Homo sapiens: one gene and its partners. The protein of the gene in region 1 purifies or fractionates together with the protein of each later gene. This does not show direct contact. Each region holds a gene or a part of one and is shown in the gene's direction. Other genes may lie near its edges.

The links.
Region 2: the proteins of VWA8 (region 1) and ITM2B purify together in Homo sapiens (co-immunoprecipitation; one large-scale study listed by IntAct). This does not show direct contact.
Region 3: the proteins of VWA8 (region 1) and HAPLN3 purify together in Homo sapiens (co-immunoprecipitation; one large-scale study listed by IntAct). This does not show direct contact.
Region 4: the proteins of VWA8 (region 1) and NPAS1 purify together in Homo sapiens (co-immunoprecipitation; one large-scale study listed by IntAct). This does not show direct contact.
Region 5: the proteins of VWA8 (region 1) and SIRT4 purify together in Homo sapiens (co-immunoprecipitation; one large-scale study listed by IntAct). This does not show direct contact.
Region 6: the proteins of VWA8 (region 1) and DCLRE1B purify together in Homo sapiens (co-immunoprecipitation; one large-scale study listed by IntAct). This does not show direct contact.

The regions. Positions count from the first base shown.
Region 1 is NC_000013.11:41,881,110-41,884,609, reverse strand, and holds part of VWA8 (von Willebrand factor A domain-containing protein 8 isoform a precursor), read left to right. Parts: intron 1-1,118; coding exon 1,119-1,223; intron 1,224-3,500. UniProt on the Homo sapiens protein: Exhibits ATPase activity in vitro.
Region 2 is NC_000013.11:48,253,706-48,257,205, forward strand, and holds part of ITM2B (integral membrane protein 2B), read left to right. Parts: intron 1-102; coding exon 103-231; intron 232-2,471; coding exon 2,472-2,678; intron 2,679-3,500. UniProt on the Homo sapiens protein: Plays a regulatory role in the processing of the amyloid-beta A4 precursor protein (APP) and acts as an inhibitor of the amyloid-beta peptide aggregation and fibrils deposition. Plays a role in the induction of neurite outgrowth.
Region 3 is NC_000015.10:88,885,545-88,889,044, reverse strand, and holds part of HAPLN3 (hyaluronan and proteoglycan link protein 3 isoform 2 precursor), read left to right. Parts: exon of another isoform or gene 1-1,619; intron 1,620-1,699; coding exon of another isoform or gene 1,700-1,746; coding exon 1,747-1,870; intron 1,871-3,500. UniProt on the Homo sapiens protein: May function in hyaluronic acid binding.
Region 4 is NC_000019.10:47,033,337-47,036,836, forward strand, and holds part of NPAS1 (neuronal PAS domain-containing protein 1), read left to right. Parts: intron 1-1,980; exon of another isoform or gene 1,981-2,022; intron 2,023-2,627; coding exon 2,628-2,793; intron 2,794-3,500. UniProt on the Homo sapiens protein: May control regulatory pathways relevant to schizophrenia and to psychotic illness. May play a role in late central nervous system development by modulating EPO expression in response to cellular oxygen level.
Region 5 is NC_000012.12:120,305,321-120,308,820, forward strand, and holds part of SIRT4 (NAD-dependent protein lipoamidase sirtuin-4, mitochondrial), read left to right. Parts: intron 1-3,500. UniProt on the Homo sapiens protein: Acts as a NAD-dependent protein lipoamidase, biotinylase, deacetylase and ADP-ribosyl transferase. Catalyzes more efficiently removal of lipoyl- and biotinyl- than acetyl-lysine modifications.
Region 6 is NC_000001.11:113,911,456-113,914,586, forward strand, and holds the end of DCLRE1B (5' exonuclease Apollo), read left to right. Parts: coding exon 1-736; 3' UTR 737-2,631; downstream 2,632-3,131.

The DNA.
Region 1 (3,500 bases):
GTTTGCATGTGCTTTTTTCTTTTTTTTTTTCCTGAACCATTTGGAAGTAAATTGCAGTCAGTACTCTTAAATACTTCAGTGTGTGTATCAGTTCGTTCTCCCGCTGCTATGAAGAAATACCTGAGACTGGGTAATTTATAAAGAAAAGAGGTTTAATTGACTCACAGTTCTGCAAGGCTATGGAGGCCTCAGGAAACTTACAATCGTGGTGGAAGAGGAAGCAAACACGTCCTTCACATGGTGGCAGGAGAGAAAAGTGCAGAGTGAAGGAGGGGAAAAGCCCTTTATAAAGCCATCAGATCTCATGAGAACTCACTATCATGAGAACAGCATGGAGGTTAACTGCCTCCATGATTCAGTTGTCTCCCACTGGGTCCCTCCCATGACACGTGGGGATTGTGGGAGCTACAATTCAAGATGAGATTTGGGTGGGGACACAGCCAAACCATATCAGTATGCAACTTCTAAGAATTAGGACATTCTTCTACATAACCAGAACAACATTATCACACTTCATATCATGTTAACAGTAATCCATAGTATCATCTAATAGATAGTTCATATTGAAATTTCACTAATCTTTCTTGTCAACAGACTTTTAAAGTGGGGTGAACAGAATTGACAGTGCAGATAATGTGAGGAAGGATTTGAGGATAATGAATACTTTCTAATTTTGTAGTTATAACTGTGAAGCTAAGTGAATGTGGATGAGATTAACTTAGGAATAAAAAGGGATCAGGTACTTTGGGATGAATAAGGTAGAGACATGTATTCTGTTTCAAATGGGGGTCTATGGGATATTCATATAGTCACATGTAATGAACAATTGAGGGTTCAGGTTTAGAGCTCAAGAAAGAAGTCAAGACCAGACATAGAAGTGTGGGAGCCATCAATACATAGAAGATAAATGAAAGATGGGAATGGGTAAGCTTACCCAGAGAAAGGGCAAGGAATGAGAAGAGAAAATAATGAATATTTGCTTTTGTAGACTTACAGAAAATACCAGACACCTATTGGTTACTTTTATAAGTCAATTTTAATGTCATATGTACATTTCAGATGTTTTCTGTGATTATTTTGAATTTTGCTCATTCCTATGTATTTTTGCTCCTACATAGGATTCCTTTCCTATGATGCCAATCAAACATGCAATCCAGTGGCTTTATCCATATAGTATTTTACTAGGTCATGAAGGGAAGATGGCTGTGGAAGGTGTTTTAAAGGTGAGTGTCTGCTTCCCTTTCTTTCCTTTCTTTTCCCATTTTCCCTTCCCTTGCCTTTTCCCATCTTCCCCTCACTCCTTTCCCCACCTTTCCTATTTTTCTCTCCCCATCCTTATTTCTTTCCTTTCCCTTCCCCTCCATTCTTTACCAGGCATGGAGGTATCAGCATTCCAACAAGAAGACAGCTGTGATAAATAGGGCAGCAAACACACAGGGGCTGGTGTGATTGGGAGATTGGTTATGTTGAGCAAATAAGTAAATAGATTGAGCAAATGAATGAATATATTAAGGATAATAAGAGTTATGCTTCTCACTGTTGGATGAGGGATTTATAACCATGGAAAGGGGGAAGGCAAGAAAAAACTCTAAGGTATTGGATTGGAATTGGTGTTATTATGAATCATGACTTTTTTTAAACAATATATATGAACAAATAGATAGAGATAGTATGTGTATATGTATACATACACATATTTTCTAGCTGTCTCCTAAGGCAGCCTAAAAACTATGATGTTCTCATATTTAGTTAAAAAAATAGGATTGCTCTCCCTCTCCCTCTCCCTCTCCCCACGGTCTCCCTCTCCCTCTCTTTCCACGGTCTCCCTCTGATGCCCAGCCGAAGCTGGACTGTACTGCTGCCATCTCGGCTCACTGCAACCTCCCTGCCTGATTCTCCTGCCTCAGCCTGCCGAGTGCCTGCGATTGCAGGCGCGCGACGCCACGCCTGACTGGTTTTCGTATTTTTTTGGTGGAGACGGGGTTTCGCTGTGTTGGCCGGGCTGGTCTCCAGCTCCTAACCGCGAGTGATCCGCCAGCCTTGGCCTCCCGGGGTGCTGGGATTGCAGACGGAGTCTGGTTCACTCAGTGCTCAATGGTGCCCAGGCTGGAGTGCAGTGGTGTGATCTCGGCTCGCTACAACCTCCACCTCCCAGCTGCCTGCCTTGGCCTCCCAAAGTGCCGAGATTGCAGCCTCTGCCTGGCCGCCACCCCGTCTGGGAAGTGAGGAGCGTCTCTGCCTGGCCGCCCGTCGTCTGGGACGTGAGGAGCCCCTCTGCCTGGCTGCCCAGTCTGGAAAGTGAGGAGCGTCTCTGCCCGGCCGCCATCCCATCTAGGAAGTGACGAGCGCCTCTTCCCGGTCGCCATCCCATCTAGGAAGTGAGGAGCGTCTCTGCCCGGCCGCCCATCGTCTGAGATGTGGGGAGAGCCTCTGCCCTGCCGCCCCGTCTGGGATGTGAGGAGCACCTCCACCCGGCCGCGACCCCGTCTGGGAGGTGAGGAGCGTCTCTGCCCGGCCGCCCCGTCTGAGAAGTGAGGAGACCCTCCGCCTGGCAACCGCCCGTCTGAGAAGTGAGGAGCCCCTCCGCCCGGAAGCCGCCCCATCTGAGAAGTGAGGAGCCCCTCCGTCCCGGCAGTCACCCTGTCTGGGAAGTGAGGAGCGTCTCCGCCCAGCAGCCACCCCGTCCGGGAGGGAGGTGGGGGTCAGCCCCCGCCAGGCCAGCCGCCCCGTCCGGGAGGGAGGTGGGGGGGTCAGCCCCCCGCCCGGCCAGCCGCCCCGTCCGGGAGGTGAGGGGCACCTCTGCCCGGCCGCCCCTACTGGGAAGTGAGGAGCTCCTCTGCCCAGCCAGTCGCCCCGTCCAGGAGGGAGGTGGGGGGGTCAGCCCCCAGCCCGGCCAGCCGCCCCGTCCGGGAGGTGAGGGGCGCCTCTGCCCGGCCGCCCCTACTGGGAAGTGAGGAGCCCTCTGCCCAGCCGCCCCTACTGGGAAGTGAGGAGCCCCTCTGCCTGGCCACCACCCCGTCTGGGAGGTGTACCCAACAGCTCATTGAGAACGGGCCATGATGACAATGGCGGTTTTGTGGAACAGAAGGGGGGAAAGGTGGGGAAAAGATTGAGAAATCGGATGGTTGCCGTGTCTGTGTAGAAAGAGGTAGACATGGGAGACTTTTCATTTTGTTCTGTACTAAGAAAAATTCTTATCCTGTTGATCTGTGACCTTACCCCCCCCCCCCCCCCCCCGGCAAAAAAAAACTATGATGTTCTAGTAGCAGTGATCATACCAAGTACCTGGACATTGGTTTCTAAATACCATGCTCTCTAAAAGGATTAGGTCAGGGAATGCAGAAGATGAGCCTGGACCATCTTTTTGTGCCAGAGAGTAAGGAAATATTCAACAAATGATGTCGATATGTCAAAATGATGGAGTTCCCAGGTTGAAGTGGCTGAAATCTGGGACAATTTGAGCATAAAAATAAATGATGATGGTAATTGGTTTTAACCTG
Region 2 (3,500 bases), 6.4 Mb from region 1:
TCTTCATTTATTAAAATGATAATCATTAAGGTTTTTCTAGTCCTGAGCCTTCTGTTATTCTGTCTGGAGATAAGATATTTAACTGTCTTTTTCATATTTTAGGACCCAGATGATGTGGTACCAGTTGGCCAAAGAAGAGCCTGGTGTTGGTGCATGTGCTTTGGACTAGCATTTATGCTTGCAGGTGTTATTCTAGGAGGAGCATACTTGTACAAATATTTTGCACTTCAAGTAAGTGGAAAAATTATTTTGTGTCTCTGATTTTTTTTTTTTTTTGCCTCTCCCGATGTGCATTACAAAATTGTTTACAACTTGCGCTAAGCTTGTACTTTTTATCTGTGACCTTCAGCCAGAGTGGTAGTTCTATTTTAAAGCTGTGTTTAAACATCTCTCCATGATATGTTTGCTGAGCCCATCACACACAGTCACTAAAAGCAGAGTAACTTGAAATGTTGGTGACTAAGGGATTTATTTAGGTCATTGGGTGATTTTACTAACCTTTATTTTCCTACTATAATTAAGGGTTGAGAGGAATAGTATTATCAATTGCCAGTTGAATAAATACATCAGCCACAAATGTTTTCATGTTGATAGGCCATAACTTGATAGTCAGCTTGGACTCCCCTATGGTCCTGCTGTACCCTTGGGCCCAGAATACAGTAAGACCATGTCTCTGCTTCTTTTCCAGTCATGGTTTCACTAAAGAACTGGGTGACTTCAGCAGTGATATTGAAATAACATAGGATGAAAGTTGTTTATAACTTTGAGTGTTTAATAGTAATCCCAGTGGGTTAAGACAAAGGTCTTCCTTGTGATTGATTATAATTTACAATCTATTTTGTAATATATTTCTCTTGGCAATAATACACAATTTTTTTTTTTAGGAGTTTTGAAGGGGAAATTACTTTCAAGGTTTTATGACTACTTCAGCTGTTTCAAAATTTGGAGAAACAGTTGACAACTAGACTTATTAAAATAATTTAACTAATTTTGAAACATTCTCAATTTCATGCTCATTTTCTGTGTTGTTCAAGATAATCAATCACATGTTGATAGACATTACCAAAATACTAGTCATCTTTTTAAATACAGTTTTATTTACAAGAAATACATATAGTATAGAAAAAATCATCGCAATTCCATTTTCCAGAGATAACATTTGGTGCATTAACTTTTTTTTTTTTCTTGAGACAGAGTTTCTCTCTTGTTGCCCAGACTGGAGTCCAATGGCGCGATCTCGGCTCACTGCACCCTCTGTCTCCCGGGTTCAGGCAATTCTCCTGCCTCAGCCTCCCAAGTAGCTGAGATTACAGGCACCTGCCACCACTCCTGGCTAATTTTTGTACTTTTAGTAGAGACAGGGTTTCATCATGTTGGCCAGGCTGGTCTCAAACTCCTGACCTCAGGCGATCCACCCACCTTGGCCTCCCAAAGTGCTAGGATTACAGGCGTGACACACCATGCCTGGCCCTGTGCATTCACATTTTGTATACCCTTAGTCTTTATTGTGTGTGTAGTGTGTGTAGTGTGTGTGTGTGTGTGTGTGTGTGCGCGCGCGTGTGCGTGCGCGCACGTGTACATGTACTGTGTGTTTGGCTTTTTTTGAGATGGGGTCTCACTCTGTCATCCAGGCTGGAGTGCGGTGGTGCAATCACAGCTCACTGTAGCCTCAACCTCTTGGGCTCAGGCAATCCTCCCGCCTCAACCTCCCCAGGAGTAGCTAGGACTACAGGTGCGTGGCACCATACCCAGCTAATTTTTTTATTTTTTGTGGAGACAGGGTCTCACCATGTTGCCCAGGCTGGTCTTGAACTCCTGGGCTCAAGCAGTCCATCTGTCTCAGGCCTCCTCCCCACAAAGTATTAGGATTACAGGCATGAGTTACTGCACCCGACCTTATGTACTGTTTTTTCTTTTTGTAAAAGTGAGACAGTAGCATAAAGATTTGCTGTAATCTAATATTTTCCACTGAATTGTGATATAAAGGGAAAAGTAGAACTACGTATATGCATATAGAAATTTCAGAAAAATTATCCCTTTTTTGGCTAATAAGAAAAAAGTCATTTAATTAGTAGACCATATCAAAACTTTTTAATATATTCTTTCAGAAAAACTTGACTAGTTTTGGAATGTATTCTTCTATAAAAACTGCTTACAGGTAGAGTAGGTCTGTTGTTTCTTTATATTTATTTGTTACTGGATAGCTAATTATTTTTATGTTCTATTTTCACCTACCAGGAAAAGTAAAGGGAAAACCAGCTGCCTTTCTTCTGAAGCTGTTCTTTTACAGTGCTTCAAAACCTGATCTTAAAGAATATGTTAACTCTGTAATTAAACTGTCTGACTTGTCATCTAAAAGCAAGAGTTTGCAAGCAAAATGCTATTTAGATAGAGGTGGCAGCTTAAGTAATGCTTATTTAAAAACCTGTCTCATGCTGAATTGCTGAAATGAGTCTTTAAACTCTCTATAGCCAGATGACGTGTACTACTGTGGAATAAAGTACATCAAAGATGATGTCATCTTAAATGAGCCCTCTGCAGATGCCCCAGCTGCTCTCTACCAGACAATTGAAGAAAATATTAAAATCTTTGAAGAAGAAGAAGTTGAATTTATCAGTGTGCCTGTCCCAGAGTTTGCAGATAGTGATCCTGCCAACATTGTTCATGACTTTAACAAGGTGAGCCAAGTGTCCAGAATTGTAGAAAGAATGCAGGTTCTGTAGTTTATGCTTTTTGTAGTTTTAATTTCAATATTTGCTAATTTATTATATTTAGAGTTTAGTTTAATAAACTGTCAGCATTTGGTGGGCTCTGCTATGTCTGAAGCAGACCCTGCTGATGCAGCCTTCTCATATCTTATCTCTCCTTCCCCTTGCCTTACCTACTCTTAAAGCCCACCTCATGACTGTTCCTCCTTTGCTGGCAAACTAATATTTTTTATATGTTCCCACATTTTCTTAGATAAGAGGTAATTTATGTTCCTGTTTCTTGGTAGCATTTTCAAAATCAATAATTTTGTTAATCTGTTTTTAAGTTCTCATTCTATATTTTTCCCCAGCTTTTGAGCATTTTTATGTAATGCAGAAAAGTTGAATACCCAAAATCCTCCACTTTGTTCCAAATATTGCCATATTTGCTTCATCTCTTTTTCTGTCATTTGACATAAGTACTTATGCTATTATCTCTCAAGAATGAGTTGTCCTCCTACGTAACCACATAATTATCACATCTAAGAAAATTAACATGATCTTATAGGACAGTAGTCCCCCCTTATCCGTGGGGGATACATGCCAAGACCCCCAGTGGATGTCTGAAACTGCATATAGTACCAAACCCTGTATATACTATGTTTTTTCCTGTTAGTGTACATATATACATATGTTAAAATTTAATTTACAAATTAGCCACAGTAATAGATTAACGACAATAATAATAAAACAGTTATAACAAAATACTATAATAAAAGTTATGTGAAGGTGGTTTCTCAAAATATTTTATTA
Region 3 (3,500 bases), on another chromosome or scaffold:
CCATCTTCTCTGAGTGCCTCCCATTGGCTCAATCCCACTGGAAGCCAGAAGGCCTGGGGAACTGGGACAACAGGGACCAATACGTGTCAGAGAAGGACAGACGATGGACCTGGTGGGTGTGTGGGGCAAATGGAGGACCTCCTGTATACCCCCAGCACCCCCAGGCTTGGGACTCTTGCTGGCATCTGCACCTTTGTAGTGGCAGTGCCCTACTGGATAAACCTGTCAGTCCTTCTCCACCTGGCAAACTCCTGCATCTTCAGTCTCATTTGGACATTCCCGTTTCTGTACCTCCATCGTGGTACTCAACACACAGCAATCAAGACTGCCTGCCCACGACTCTGCCCCCTCCCTGGACCAAGCTCCTTCAAGGAGTGACCCCATCTTTTAATTGTTGAGAGCACGCAGTAAATGGCAGGTGAGCAGGGCTAGGGTGACATGAGTGAGGCAGTAGCCCTTGGTGTGAGATTTAAGCGGGGGAGGAAGGGAGTTTGCTAGAAATCTTAGTAATCAAGACAAAATATTTGAATACAATATTTAAAAAAAAATCAAATCATCAAACTACAGCCCATGGGTTGGCTACCTCTTTTGAGCGCCCACCCAAACTGGAATAGCTCCCAAGACCTCTAGCATGGTGTTCAAAAATTATTTTTGAGTTGGGCGCAGTGGCTTATGCCTGTAATCTCAGCACTTTGGGAGGCCGAGGCGGGCTGATCACTAGGTCAGGAGATTGAGATCATCCTGGCTAACGCGGTGAAACCCCGTCTGTACTAAAATTACAAAAAATTAGCTGAGCTTGGTGGCACGCACCTGTAGTCCCAGCTACTCGGGAGGCTGAGGCAGGAGAATTTCTTGAACCCAGGAGGCGGAGGTTGCAGTGAGCAACCTCCACTCCAGCCTGGGCGACAGAGCGAGACTCTGTCTCAAAAAAAAAAAAAAAGGGTTCACAATGCAGGACTCATCTTTACTTAACATACCCTCTATTCACCCTGATATTTTCTATTCTAGTCTAGTTTATTTGGCGTCATTAAAAAGTGCTGCTCATACCTTTCTTTTCTTTTCTTTCTTTTTTCTTTTTTTTGAGATAGAGTTTCACTCTTGTTGCCCAGGCTGGAGTGCAATGGCATGATCTTGGCTCACCACAACCTCTGCCTCCTGGGTTCAAGCGATTCTCCTGCCTCAGCCTCCCGAGTAGCTGGGATTACAGACATGTGACACCATGCCTGGCTAATTTTGTATTTTTAGTAGAGACGGGGTTTCTCCATGTTGGCCAGGCTGGCCTCAAACTCCCAACCTCAGGTGATCCGCCCGCCTCAGCCTCCCAAAGTCCTGGGATTATAAGCGTGAGCCACCATGCCCAGCCTGCCCATAACCTTTCAAATTCTGGCTTGAAAAACATTGAGCCTGTCATATCATCCTGCTTAATTTTCTCTGCTTTTAGCTGCCTGATACTTCCTTCTTATGATTTGTCTCTTTGCTGATCTCCCGTCTTGCCTTCGGGGTACAGCTCCCTGAAAGCAGGAACCCCATCTAGCTTGTCACTGCTGTCTTCTCAGCTCCGGGAACAGCGTCTGGCACGTAGGCGGCAGGTGTCCCGCAGTGAGCTGTTGAGCAAGCGAGTGAGTGGTGTTGGAGCAGAGGGGATGTGGGCCCTGGAAGCCAGGCTTTTCTAATTGCCTTGTTTTCCTCCCCTTCCCAGTTTGCCCTGGGGCCCCAGCCTGGCCCGGGTCACCCTGGCATGAGGAGATGGGCCTGTTGCTCCTGGTCCCGTTGCTCCTGCTGCCCGGCTCCTACGGACTGCCCTTCTACAACGGCTTCTACTACTCCAACAGCGCCAACGACCAGAACCTAGGCAACGGTCATGGCAAAGGTAGGCGACCTCCTGCACCCGGCTCTTTGCTCCCCTGGGTGACCTAGACCTCCTTGGCTCTTGCTGTGATCTGAGGGTTCCAGGCTGGGACAGGGACAGCAGCCCTGTTCCAGCAGGGCCCTTGTAGTGGGCCAGCTTGCTTCTCAGACAGGGGAAGGGGTGAGTTCATTTTCCTGTGTTCGCCAGCCCCTTCGTCATGGGGCCCAATTCACTTAGGCTTTTTACTTTCCCTAAAAGTCTTGCCAGTTGTTCAAGGTCCAGCTTGAATGTGTCCTCCCCTGGTCCCCCCAGTGGAAAGGGGACCTGGGGTCGAATAGATGTGAGTTTGAATGTTTTTTTTGTTTGTTTTTGAGATAAAGTCTCACTCTGTTGCCGAGGCTGGAGTGCAATGGCACGATCTCGGCTCACTGCAACCTCTGCCTCCCGGGTTCAAGCGATTCTCCTGCCTCGGCCTCCCGAGTAGCTGGGATTACAAGCATGTGCCACCATGCCTGGCTACTTTTTGTATTTTTAGTAGAGAAGGGGTTTCACCATGTTGGCCAGGCTGGTCTTGAACTCCTGACCTCAGGTGATCCACCTGCCTCGACCTCCCAAATTGCTGGGATTACAGGCATAAGCCACCATGCCTGGCCCGAGTTTGAATCTTATAATTCTACCTCTTACTAGCTGTGTGGCCTTGGGCAGGGAACGTTTTAAAGTAGCAGTTATTGTGCACCCAACATGGGTTGGGCGCGCTTCTAGATATTTTGCATATGTCGTCTCCTGTAATCACAAAAGCCCTGATGTAGGCAAGGGTGAAAATATACCTTTTTTTTTTTTTTTTTAAGATGGAGTCTCACTTTGTTGTCCAGGCTGGAGTGCAGTGGCGCGATCTTGGCTCACTGCAGCCTCTGCCTCCCAGGTTCAAGCGATTCTCCTGCCTCAGCCTCCCAAGCAGCTGGGATTACAGGCATCTGCCACCACACCTGGCTAATTTTTGTACTTTTAGTAGAAATGGGGGTTTCTCCATGTTGGCCAGGCTGGTCCTGAACTCTTGACCTCAGGTGATCCACCCGCCTCAGCCTCCCAAAATGCTGGGATTACAGGCGTGAGCCAACGAGCCTTGCCGAAAATACACATTTTTAACCATTAGTGCAGCACGGGTGCTGACCAGGCTGAATTGATGCTGTCTGCCCTCACAGCCTGAAAGTAGATTCTATTATCATCCCTTCTCATAGATGAGCAAACTAGGCTCAGAGAGTTGATCCAGTTGTCCAGGTCAAACAGCTATTAAAAAGACAAAGCTGAGGGCTGGGTGCAGTGGCTCATGCCTATAATCCCAGCACTTTGGGAGACTGAGGTGAGTGGATCACTTGAGGTCAGGAGTTCAAGGCCAGCCTGGCCAACATACCGAAACCCTCTACTAAAGATACAAAAAATTGGCCAGGCGCGGTGACTCACACCTGTAATCCCAGCACTTAAGGAGGCCGAGGTGGATGGATCACGAGGTCAAGAGATCAAGACCATTCTGACCAACCTGGTGAAATCCTGTCTCTACTAAAAATACAAAAGTAGCCGGGCGTGGTGGCAGGTGCCTTTAATCCCAGCTTCTCAGGAGGCTGAGGCAGGAGAATTGCTTGAACCTGGGAGG
Region 4 (3,500 bases), on another chromosome or scaffold:
TTCAAGCGATTCTCCTGCCTCAGCCTCCCGAGTAGCTGGGATTACAGACATGCACCACCACGCCTAGCTAACTTTGTATTTTTTAAATAGAGACAGGGTTTCTTCATGTTGGTCAGGCTTGTCTTGAACTCTCAATCTCAGGCAATCCGCCTGCCTCAGCCTCCCAAAGTGCTGGGATTACAGCGTGAGCCACCGCGCCCAGCCTGAGGGGGCTATTAAAGTAACAAGTAGATCTGAGGAAAGCAGGTTCACTGAAAGATCAGTTTGCCAATGACTGGCGGGCCAGATGCACCATATTTGCCAACACTTGTTTCTTCTTAACAATTTTAAAGGTTTAGAGGCCACCCACGCTGGCTCATGCCTGTAATCCCAACACTTTGGGAGGCTGAGCCAGGAGGATCACCTGAGGCCAGGAATTCAAAACCAGCCTGGGCAACATAGTGAGACACCCCACCACCCCCACCCCCACCATCTCTACAAAAAAACTTAAAAATTAGCCAGGCATGGTGGCACACTGTTGTCCCAGCTACTCAGGAGGTTGAGATGGGAGGATCGCTTGAGCCCATAGGGTCAAGGTGGCAGTGAGCCATGATGAAGCCACTGCACTCCAACATGGACAACAAAGTGAGGCTATGCCTTAAAAAAAAAAAAAAAAAAAAAAAAAAAAAAAAAAAAAAAAAAAAAAGGGCCGGGCGCGGTGGCTCACGCCTGTAATCCCAGCACTTTGGGAGGCCGAGGCAGGCAAATCACCTGAGGTTGGGAATTCAAGACCAGCCTGACCAACATGGAGAAACCCCGTCTCTCTACTAAAAAACAAAAAATACAAAATTAGCCAGGCGTGGTGGCAGACACCTGTAATCCCAGCTACTCGGGAGGCTGAGGCAAGATAATCACTTGAACCCAGGAAGTGGAGGGTACAGTGAGCCGAGATCGTGGCATTGCACTCCAGCCTGGGCAACAAGAGCAAAACTCCGTCTCAAAAAAAAAAAAAAAAAAAGGGCAGGAAGACCTACTGAAAGCCCCATCCTTGGAGCCCTGGCATCTCACAGCACCTTAAGCTTTGCCAGTCCCTCCAATACAAATTGCTATCAACTTTGATCATTTTTACAAATATTTTTCACAAATAGGAAATTTAGGAAATTCAGTGCATTGGCAACTTGTGAGTACCTTTTCAGTGAGATTCCTGGAGGAGGAAGACACCAAAAGGAGGGGAATTTGGACAAGAGGACGGGAGGGAGGAAGAGTGGAGGAAAAGCTTGGCCAGGTGTGGTGGCTCACGCCTGTAATCCCAGCACTTTGGGAGGCAAAAGCAGGCAGATCACCTGAGGTCAGGAGTTCGAGACCAACCTGGGCAACATGGCGAAACCCAGTCTCTACTAAAAATACAAAATTAGCCGGGTGTGCTGGCAGATGCCTATAGTCCCAGCTACTCCAGAGGCTGAGGCAGAAGAATCACTTGAACCCAGGAGGCAGAGGTTGCAGTGAGCCAAGATTGCACCATTGCACTCCAGCCTGGGCAACGAGAGCAAAACCCCATCTCAAAAACAAAACAAAACAAAAAAAGTCCAGGCGCGGTGGCTCATGCCCGTAAACCCAGCACTTTGGGAGGCTGAGGCGGGCAGATCACCTGAGGTCGGGAGTTTGAGACCAGCCTGACCAACATGGAGAAACCCCGTCTGTACTAAAAATACAAAATTAGCCAGGTGTGTTGGCACATGCCTGTAATCCCAGCTTCTTGGGAGGCCGAGGCGGGAGAATTGCTTGAACCTGGGAGGCAGAGGTCACGGTGAGCCGAGATCGCGCCATTGCACTCCAGCCTGGGCAACAAGAGCAAAACTCCGTCTAAAAAAATAAAAAGAAGAAGAAGAAGAAGAAGAAGAAGAAGGAAAGGCTTGAAGCTGTTGAAGCTGGCGTGGGGGAGGATTTAATGAGGGGGCGGAGCCCAGAGGGATAACGGACTGAGGGAAGCATGTGACCTCCAAGCTGAGGGGCAATGGGAGTCATGGCAGCCATGGTGGTCAGGTAAGTAACTTGCAGAGGCATCTTTGAACTGTAGGTCAGAAGACCAGTGAGGACGCGGGGGCAGAAACACAGTGGGGAGAAGATGGGGGCCTGCATTGAGGGAGGCAGGGAGAGAAGGGGACTGCTAGGAGAGAGATTTACGGGTAGAATTGAATGTAAAAGTGTCTGATTGAAAAGCTCTAACTCTTTAAGAGCTTAAAAACCACTCCCCTGTTTGTATCTTGAATCTCATTCCTGCTGGGACACCCAGTGATTCATGCCAGGGCACAGTTGTTTGCTGTATGGGGGTGGTAGTGAGTAAGCAGGAGTTGGGTAAACGGAGGTTCTGACACCTCCCACCCACGCCCCACTCCCACACACAGCCCCTTAATAGAGTGGGCGGGGAAAAATCCTTACTAATCACTGGGTATGAAGCGAGAAGAGTCTAAGTTTGTATCTTCCGTTTGAAAGGTAATTGTTTTTTGTTTTTTTCTTTTCTTAAAAAAACACACTGGCATGAAGCGCACCTGCGTGCAGGCAAATGAGGCAAGGCTGAGCCCAGAGGGCGAGCGAGTTACTGCGCGCGCACCTCACCCGCCCCCTGCATTCCCCTCCTTCGCCGGCAGGTGGAGATGACGGGCAGCAGCGTCTTCGACTACATTCACCCTGGGGACCACTCAGAGGTGCTGGAGCAACTGGGGCTGCGGACGCCGACGCCCGGCCCCCCAACCCCGCCCTCCGTCTCCTCTTCCTCCTCCTCTTCCTCTTCGCTTGCAGATACCCCCGAGATCGGTAATTCTAAGGGCTCCTAAAGAATGAAGTCTGAGGGTAGATCGGGGGACGCCCGCTGTACTGTATCCAGCCATGCCGCGTTTATACAAATAGCAGTGAAGTTAGAACTGTGTAGAACGAATCTTTGCAAAAGGAATCGGAGTATAAATTGAGGCGGTGAGACTTGGTTCCTTAAGCTTGCCAAACTCCCAAAGATTCGAGCTACAGAAAGACCCCCCTGGCTGCTGAAAGGAGTTGGGAGAGGCTTAGGTAAATAACAAGGCAGGCTTATTGGGAATATACACCGGCTGTGTCTGTAAGTGCACAATCACATTACATAATTACGTTAGGGCCGGGCGCGGCGGCTCGCGCCTGTAACCCCGGCACTTCGGGAGGCCCAGGGGGGCGGATCACTTGAGCTCGGTTGGAGACCAGCCTGGGCAACATAGTGAAACCTCATCTCTACAAAAATTACAAAAAAGGCCAGGAGTGGTGGCACAAAGCTGTAGCCCCAGCACTTTGGGAGGCCGAGGCGGGTGGGTCACCTAAAGTCAGGAGTTTGAGACCAGCCTGGCTTGCATAGTGAAACCCCATCTCTACTAAAAATACAAAAAAAAAAAAAAAATTAGCTGGGTATGGTGGGGGGTGCCTGAGTCCCAGCTACTCGGGAGGCTGAGGCAGAAGGATCACTTGAACCCAGGAGATGGATGTTGCAGTGAGCAGAGATT
Region 5 (3,500 bases), on another chromosome or scaffold:
GCTCACTTCAGCCTCAATCTCTTGGGCTCAAGTGATCCTTTCACCCCAGCCTCCTAAGTAGCTGGGACTACAGGCAAACGCCACCGTGCCCAGCTAATTTTTAATTTAATTTTTATTTTTTGTAGAGACGAAGTCTTACTATGTTGCCCAGGCTGGTCTCGAACTCCTGGGCTCATGTGATCCTCCTGCCTTGGCATCTCAAAGTGCTGGGATGACTAGTGTGAGCCACTGTGCTTGGCCTTGAAGCTAGGGTATTTATTCACCATCTCTCATCCCTCATGGGTCCAGGATCACTCTAGGGGAATTAATTCCCTAACATTTTGACTCTGCTCCTCCCAAGGAGGCTTCCGTGGGCAGAGAACATCTGAGGCAAGAGAGACACAGGAAACTGCTTGTAAGAAAATTGTGTAGGCTGGGCGCGGCGGCTCACGCCTGTAATCCCAACACTTTGGGAGGCTGAGGCAGGCGGATCACGAGGTCAGTTGATCGAGACCATCCTGGCTAACATGGTGAAACCCCGTCTCTACTAAAAATACAAAAAATTAGCTGGGCGCGGTGGCGGACGCCTGTAGTCCCAGCTACTCGGGAGGCTGAGGCAGGAGAATGGCGTGAACCTGGGAGGTGGAGCTTGTGGTGAGCCGAGATCGCGCCACTGCACTCCAGCCTGGGTGACAGAGCGAGACTCCGTCTCAAAAAAAAAAAAAAAAGAAAGAAAGAAAATTGTGTCCACCAGGGTGCTGTGGTTCATATCTGTCATCCCAGCAACTCAGGAGGCTGAAGCAGGAGGATTACTTGAGGCCAGGAGATCAAGACCTGCCTGGGTAACACAGCCAGACTCCGTCTCTACAAAAAATTTTTTTAAGAAAGGAAATTGGCTGGGCACGGTGGCTCGCGCCTGTAATCCCAGCACTTTGGGAGGCTGAGTTGGGCGGATCACCTGAGGTCAGGAGTTCGAGACCAGCCTGACCAACATGGAGAAACCCTGTCTCTACTAAAAATACAAAATTAGCTGGGCGTGGTGGTGCATGCCTGTAATCCTAGCGACTCGGGAGGCTTAGACAGGAGAATAGCTTGAACCCAAGAGGCGGAGGTTGCGGTGAGCCGAGATTGTGCCATTGTACTCCAGCCTGCAGCCTGGGCAACAAGAACAAAACTCCGTCAAAAAAAAAAACAAACAAAAAAACAGAGAAAGGAAACTGGGACGGGTGCGGTGGCTCATGCTTGTAATCCCAGCACTTTGGGAGGCAGAGGCAGGCAGATCACTTGAGGTCAGGAGTTCGAGACCATCCTGGCCCACACGGTGAAACCCCATCTCTACTAAAAATACAAAAAATTACCTGGGCATAGTGGCGCACGCCTGTAGTCTCAGCTATTTGGGAGGCTGAGGCACGAGAGTCGCCTGAACCTGGGAGGCAGAGGTTGCAGTGAGCCAAGATTGTGCCACTGCACTCCAGCCTGGACAACAGAGTGAGACTCTATCTCAATAAAAAAACAAAAAGAAAGGAAACTGTTCGAACGTGGCCTTTAGCATGTTCTGAGGAAAATATGAGCTGAACACCAATAGCATGTGCTATAAACTGCTGGGTTTCCAATGCCTAGGATGGCTAGATACATAGACCATAACGTAGCCGGGCAGTAGTCAGAACTCAATCAATAATGAGGGAACAGATACATGGGAGGGTATCATGCTTATGGGTCTGGCAATAATTGTAGCTAATTGGAGACTTATTTCTTTAAGCCCTAGAGAGGCTCCTCTGAGGGCTGAAGTCAGTCTGCCAATGCTGAAATATTTACTGGGTGCCTAGAATGTATGGTGTACATACGTTACACTATGTAGTACATTATAACACTAACTACTGTGCTTCTTAGTGGTCAGAACCAAAGTATAGGCTGGGCTCAGTGGCTCACACCTATAATCCCAGCATTTTGAGAGGCTGAGGGGGCGGATCACTTGAGCTCAGGAGTTTGAGACCAGCCTGGCCAATATGTCGAAACCCAGTCTCTACTAAAAATAAAAGATTGGCCAGGCGTGGTGGCGGGCGCCTATAGTCCCAGCTACTCGGGAGGCTGAGGCAGGAGAATTGCATGAACATGGGTGGCAGAGGTTGCAGTGAGCCAAGATCGTGCCATTGCACTCCAGCCTGGGCGACAGAGGGAGATTGTCTCAAACAACAAACAAAAACCAAAGTATAAAACATGGCCCACTTTATATGCAAGAACTTTGTAATATTTGGGAAGACACAAAAATAACATAATTGGCCGGGCACGGTGGCTCACGCCTGTAATCCGAGCACTTTGGGAGGCCGAGGCAGGGGATCACCTGAGGTCAGGAGTTCAAGACCAGCCTGACCAACACAGTGAAACCCTGTCTCTACTAAAAATACAAAATTAGCCAGGCATGGTGGTGCATGCCTATAATCCCAGCTACTCAGGAGGCTGAGACAGGAGAATCATTTGAACCCGGGAGGCAGAGGTTGTAATGAGCTGAAATCGCACCATTGCACTCCAGCCTGGGCAACAAGAACGAAACTCCTTCTCAAAAAACAACCAAGCAAACAAACAAAGAAAAGCACATAATTAATGATAAATGACAACGCATGATTGTGAAATTGTGTGGTTCTTGATTTATATGCTGTGCATGTTCAAATAAACAGATTTAGTAAAGATTGGAATAATCAGTTGAGAAAGCTTTTTAAAAAAAAAATTTTTTTTTTTAAATAGAGACAGGATCTTGCTGTGTTGCCTAGTCTGGTCTCGAACTCCTAAGCTCAAGCCCTCCTCCTGCCTTGATCTTCCAAAGTGTTGGGATTACAGGTGTGAGCCACCATGCCTGGCCCAAGAAAGCTTTTTTTTTTTTTTTTTTTTTGAAACACAGTCTTGTTCTTGTTGCCCAGGCTGGAGTGCAGTGGCACGGTCTCGGCTCACTGCAACCTCCGCCTCCTGGGTTCAAGTGATTCTCCTGCCTCAGCCTCCCAAGTAGTTGGGATTACAGGTGCCTGCCACCACCCCCAGCTAATTTTTTGTATTTGTAGTAGAGGTAGGGTTTCATCATGTTGGCCAGGCTGGTCTCGAACTCACTCCTGACCTCGTGATCCGCCTGCCTCGGCCTCCCAAAGCGCTGGGATTACAGGCGTGAGCCACAGCGCCTGCCCCAAGAAAGCTTTTATGGGTACAGGGGGCTTGAGATTGGCTCAGGTTTGTCTAGGCAAGAGCGGGAAACAGGGCTTTCCAAATGAAGGGAAGTTGTAGATCCCAGAGGAGTCTGGCCTGGCCTCTGTAGAGGTTTGGACCTGGGACTTGCAGAAACCAGATTGTCTGGGAAAGTTAGGCCCAAATCATGGTTACATTTGAAAATCAGGCAGTGCAGTTGGGTCTGCTGTGAGACACCAAAGGGGTTTATTAGTGGTTTCTGAGCAAGCAAGCAACATGATAAAAATAGCATTTGAGGAAGGCTAAACAGGATTAAAAAGAGCAGGTCAGGGAGGTCAGCCTGAAAGACC
Region 6 (3,131 bases), on another chromosome or scaffold:
ACTGAAGCCTTGCCAGGTGGTGCCCATTGTAAGTCGGCGGCCCTGTGGAGGCTTTCAGGACAGTCTGAGCCCCAGGATCTCCGTGCCCCTGATTCCGGACTCTGTACAGCAATACATGAGTTCTTCCTCTAGAAAACCAAGCCTTCTCTGGCTGTTAGAAAGGAGGCTAAAGAGGCCGAGAACCCAAGGTGTTGTGTTTGAATCCCCTGAGGAAAGTGCTGATCAATCTCAAGCTGACAGAGACTCAAAGAAGGCCAAGAAAGAGAAACTTTCTCCCTGGCCTGCGGACCTTGAAAAGCAGCCTTCCCACCATCCTTTGCGGATCAAGAAGCAGTTGTTCCCAGATCTCTATAGCAAAGAATGGAACAAGGCAGTGCCTTTCTGTGAGTCTCAAAAGAGGGTGACTATGTTGACGGCCCCACTGGGATTTTCAGTGCACTTAAGGTCTACAGATGAGGAGTTTATTTCTCAAAAAACCAGGGAGGAAATTGGTTTAGGGTCCCCCTTGGTACCCATGGGAGATGATGATGGAGGTCCAGAAGCCACAGGGAATCAGAGTGCCTGGATGGGCCATGGTTCTCCCCTGTCCCACAGCAGCAAGGGCACCCCTCTTCTAGCTACTGAATTCAGGGGTCTAGCACTCAAATATCTTCTGACTCCAGTGAACTTTTTCCAGGCAGGGTATTCTTCCAGGAGATTTGACCAGCAAGTGGAAAAATACCATAAACCCTGCTGAAGACAGGAGAGTACAGAATGACAACATTGAGCCCACACTGCAGTTTTGAAGATAGTAACTGATGGCTGGTGGGAAAGAGTTTGTTTTTGGGGCCTACTTTTCTATCTTTACAAGACTCTTATGGGCCCACCGTGGAGCAGCACTTCCCAAAACTTGTTCACTGGGGTCCTCGTGCCTATGGAATCCTTCTTTTTATAACTAAGTTTAAGAAATACTTTTTTTATAAAATCTTTGGAGTATGCGTGAGCAAATTAAAAGTTCTTTGAAGTCCTACAGTAACTTAATCTGTTTAACCTTGTTTAACCCAGTATTTCTCAAACTTTTGTGAACATGCAATCATCTTATGTGGGTACAGAAAGAGGTAAAGAGTCTGAATCAAAAAGGACCAGGTTATTGCTGTTGCTGTTTTGTGGTGTCATGAGCCATTCTCCATGTCCCCTTCTCCCTCTTCTCAGATCAAAATCCCTAGGGAGTTCTATTTTTAAAATTATGAACTATGGCGCTGCATGCTTCAATCCTGAACGTCACTGACTTGCTGTGACCATCCAAATAATTTTCCTGTCTCTGCCTCTGGGAGGGAACAGGAAGCGATGAAGAGGTCTTGGAACAGTAGTGAAAATTCTACCTCTATGTCCTTCATGAGGATGTGCAGTATCCCAGTATCACTGGGATCCATGTGGAACAGAGCCAGCTGGGGGGTTGGGCAGCTCTCTCCAAGGCAGTACCTAGAGCCCAGCTGAACAACAAGGCTTTGGGTGTGAAGGGACTCCCCAGCCTGGAGACCCTATTTGGCTGAAACAGTTACAAAATATCAAATGTGTTGTCAGATATTCCTCCAATTGTTCACATAGCTGGGATATTTGTTGCTCCCCTCACCCCTTGGATTATGTAGGGAGCCAGTGCACACAGCCTGTTTGTTTTAGTATCCAAGGAAGAGACCAAGGAGCCAGCTGGCGGGAAGGGGTGGGGGTGTGCAGTCTGCCCTGTCCTTCTGCTCATAACCTGACAAAATGCCAAACTAGTAAGCAGGATAGCTGATACCACGGCTATGAGGGAGTAGGCTCTGAGAGGGCACAGACTTGTGGAGCTGGGCGTCTGGATCAAAACTGCTTTGGGATGGAACCTCGAGCCCTAGCAGTGAAGAAGATTCCATTTCTTGTCCAGGGGATTTAAAAGAGTTTTCTGCTTTGAGAGAGAAATAGAGAGTTTAGAAAGCAATTGCTCTTGGGAAAGCTATACACAGCTCTGTTTTGTCAATGACCTTTGTTGTAAGTCTCCCAACGTCCTATTAGGAGCCACAGCAGGTGAGGCATTTGGTGCAGCAGGAAACATGGGGACTGCCTAGGCTCGAATCTGTGGCACCCTGAGCAATTACTTAAATTGTGGAGCCTAGTTCCTCATCTGTAAGATGGACTTGAGATTCCTACCTCTCATGATTACTATGGAGATTGAATAATTGGTAAAATTCTCCTAGCTCAGTGACTGCCACAGGATGGGTCTTTCAGATTTTGGTTCTCTTTAGCTTCTGGTTCTTGAAAGAAATTAATCTGTATATAACATAAGAAACTTTGAAAGTCAAAAAAACAAAAAATTTTAATTCCTCGTAGATTAATTGATTTGCTATCTTTTAGTTTTTTTTTCTATGCATGTAGATGTATTAAATATGTAAATGTTTTTCAAAGTTGAGGTAATATTGTATAGAATTTTATAGCCTACATTTTAATTTCTTGATATCTTAAGCATTTCACTTATTAGATATTGTTCAAAAATGCCATTTTTAATATTTGTATAATACCCTATCATGTGAGTATACCTTAACTAAGCCATTCCCATATTCAACATTTTGTGTACTGTTTTTCTAATTACATATATTACAATGAACAACCTTATGCATATATTTTGCATTTTTATTTCCTTAAAGTAAATTACTGGAGTTAGATTATAGTTTTAAGTTCTTGATACCAATTGTGCTGAATTGCCCTCCAGAAAGGTTTCCTGACCATCTTTTCTGCAGACAGGATAGCATTAAAATACCTTGAAGACTCATTAGTTTAAATGAGATCACAAGAACGGTACATGTTAACACATGGAAAATCATCTCATGTGTTAACTTAATAAATAGCTACTAAACTGTGTGGGCAAATTTAGCTGGACTTCCTCTAGCATCCTCTAGCTGTCTGACTTCTAGGCGGCCGAAGGTGGCTGGGAGAGATAAGGTAGTTCTCAGTACAGGGGTTCCCATATTGGCGTTATCTTCTAGCAACAAGGGAGCCCGTCTACTCTTGGCACATGCTGTGTCACACCTGTTCCTTCAAGTGGGTTCTATATGCATTCAGATAGGGGAGGGGAAGCAAAAGACTTTGAGGAATTTAGTTGTTGGTAGCATGTTTGCATT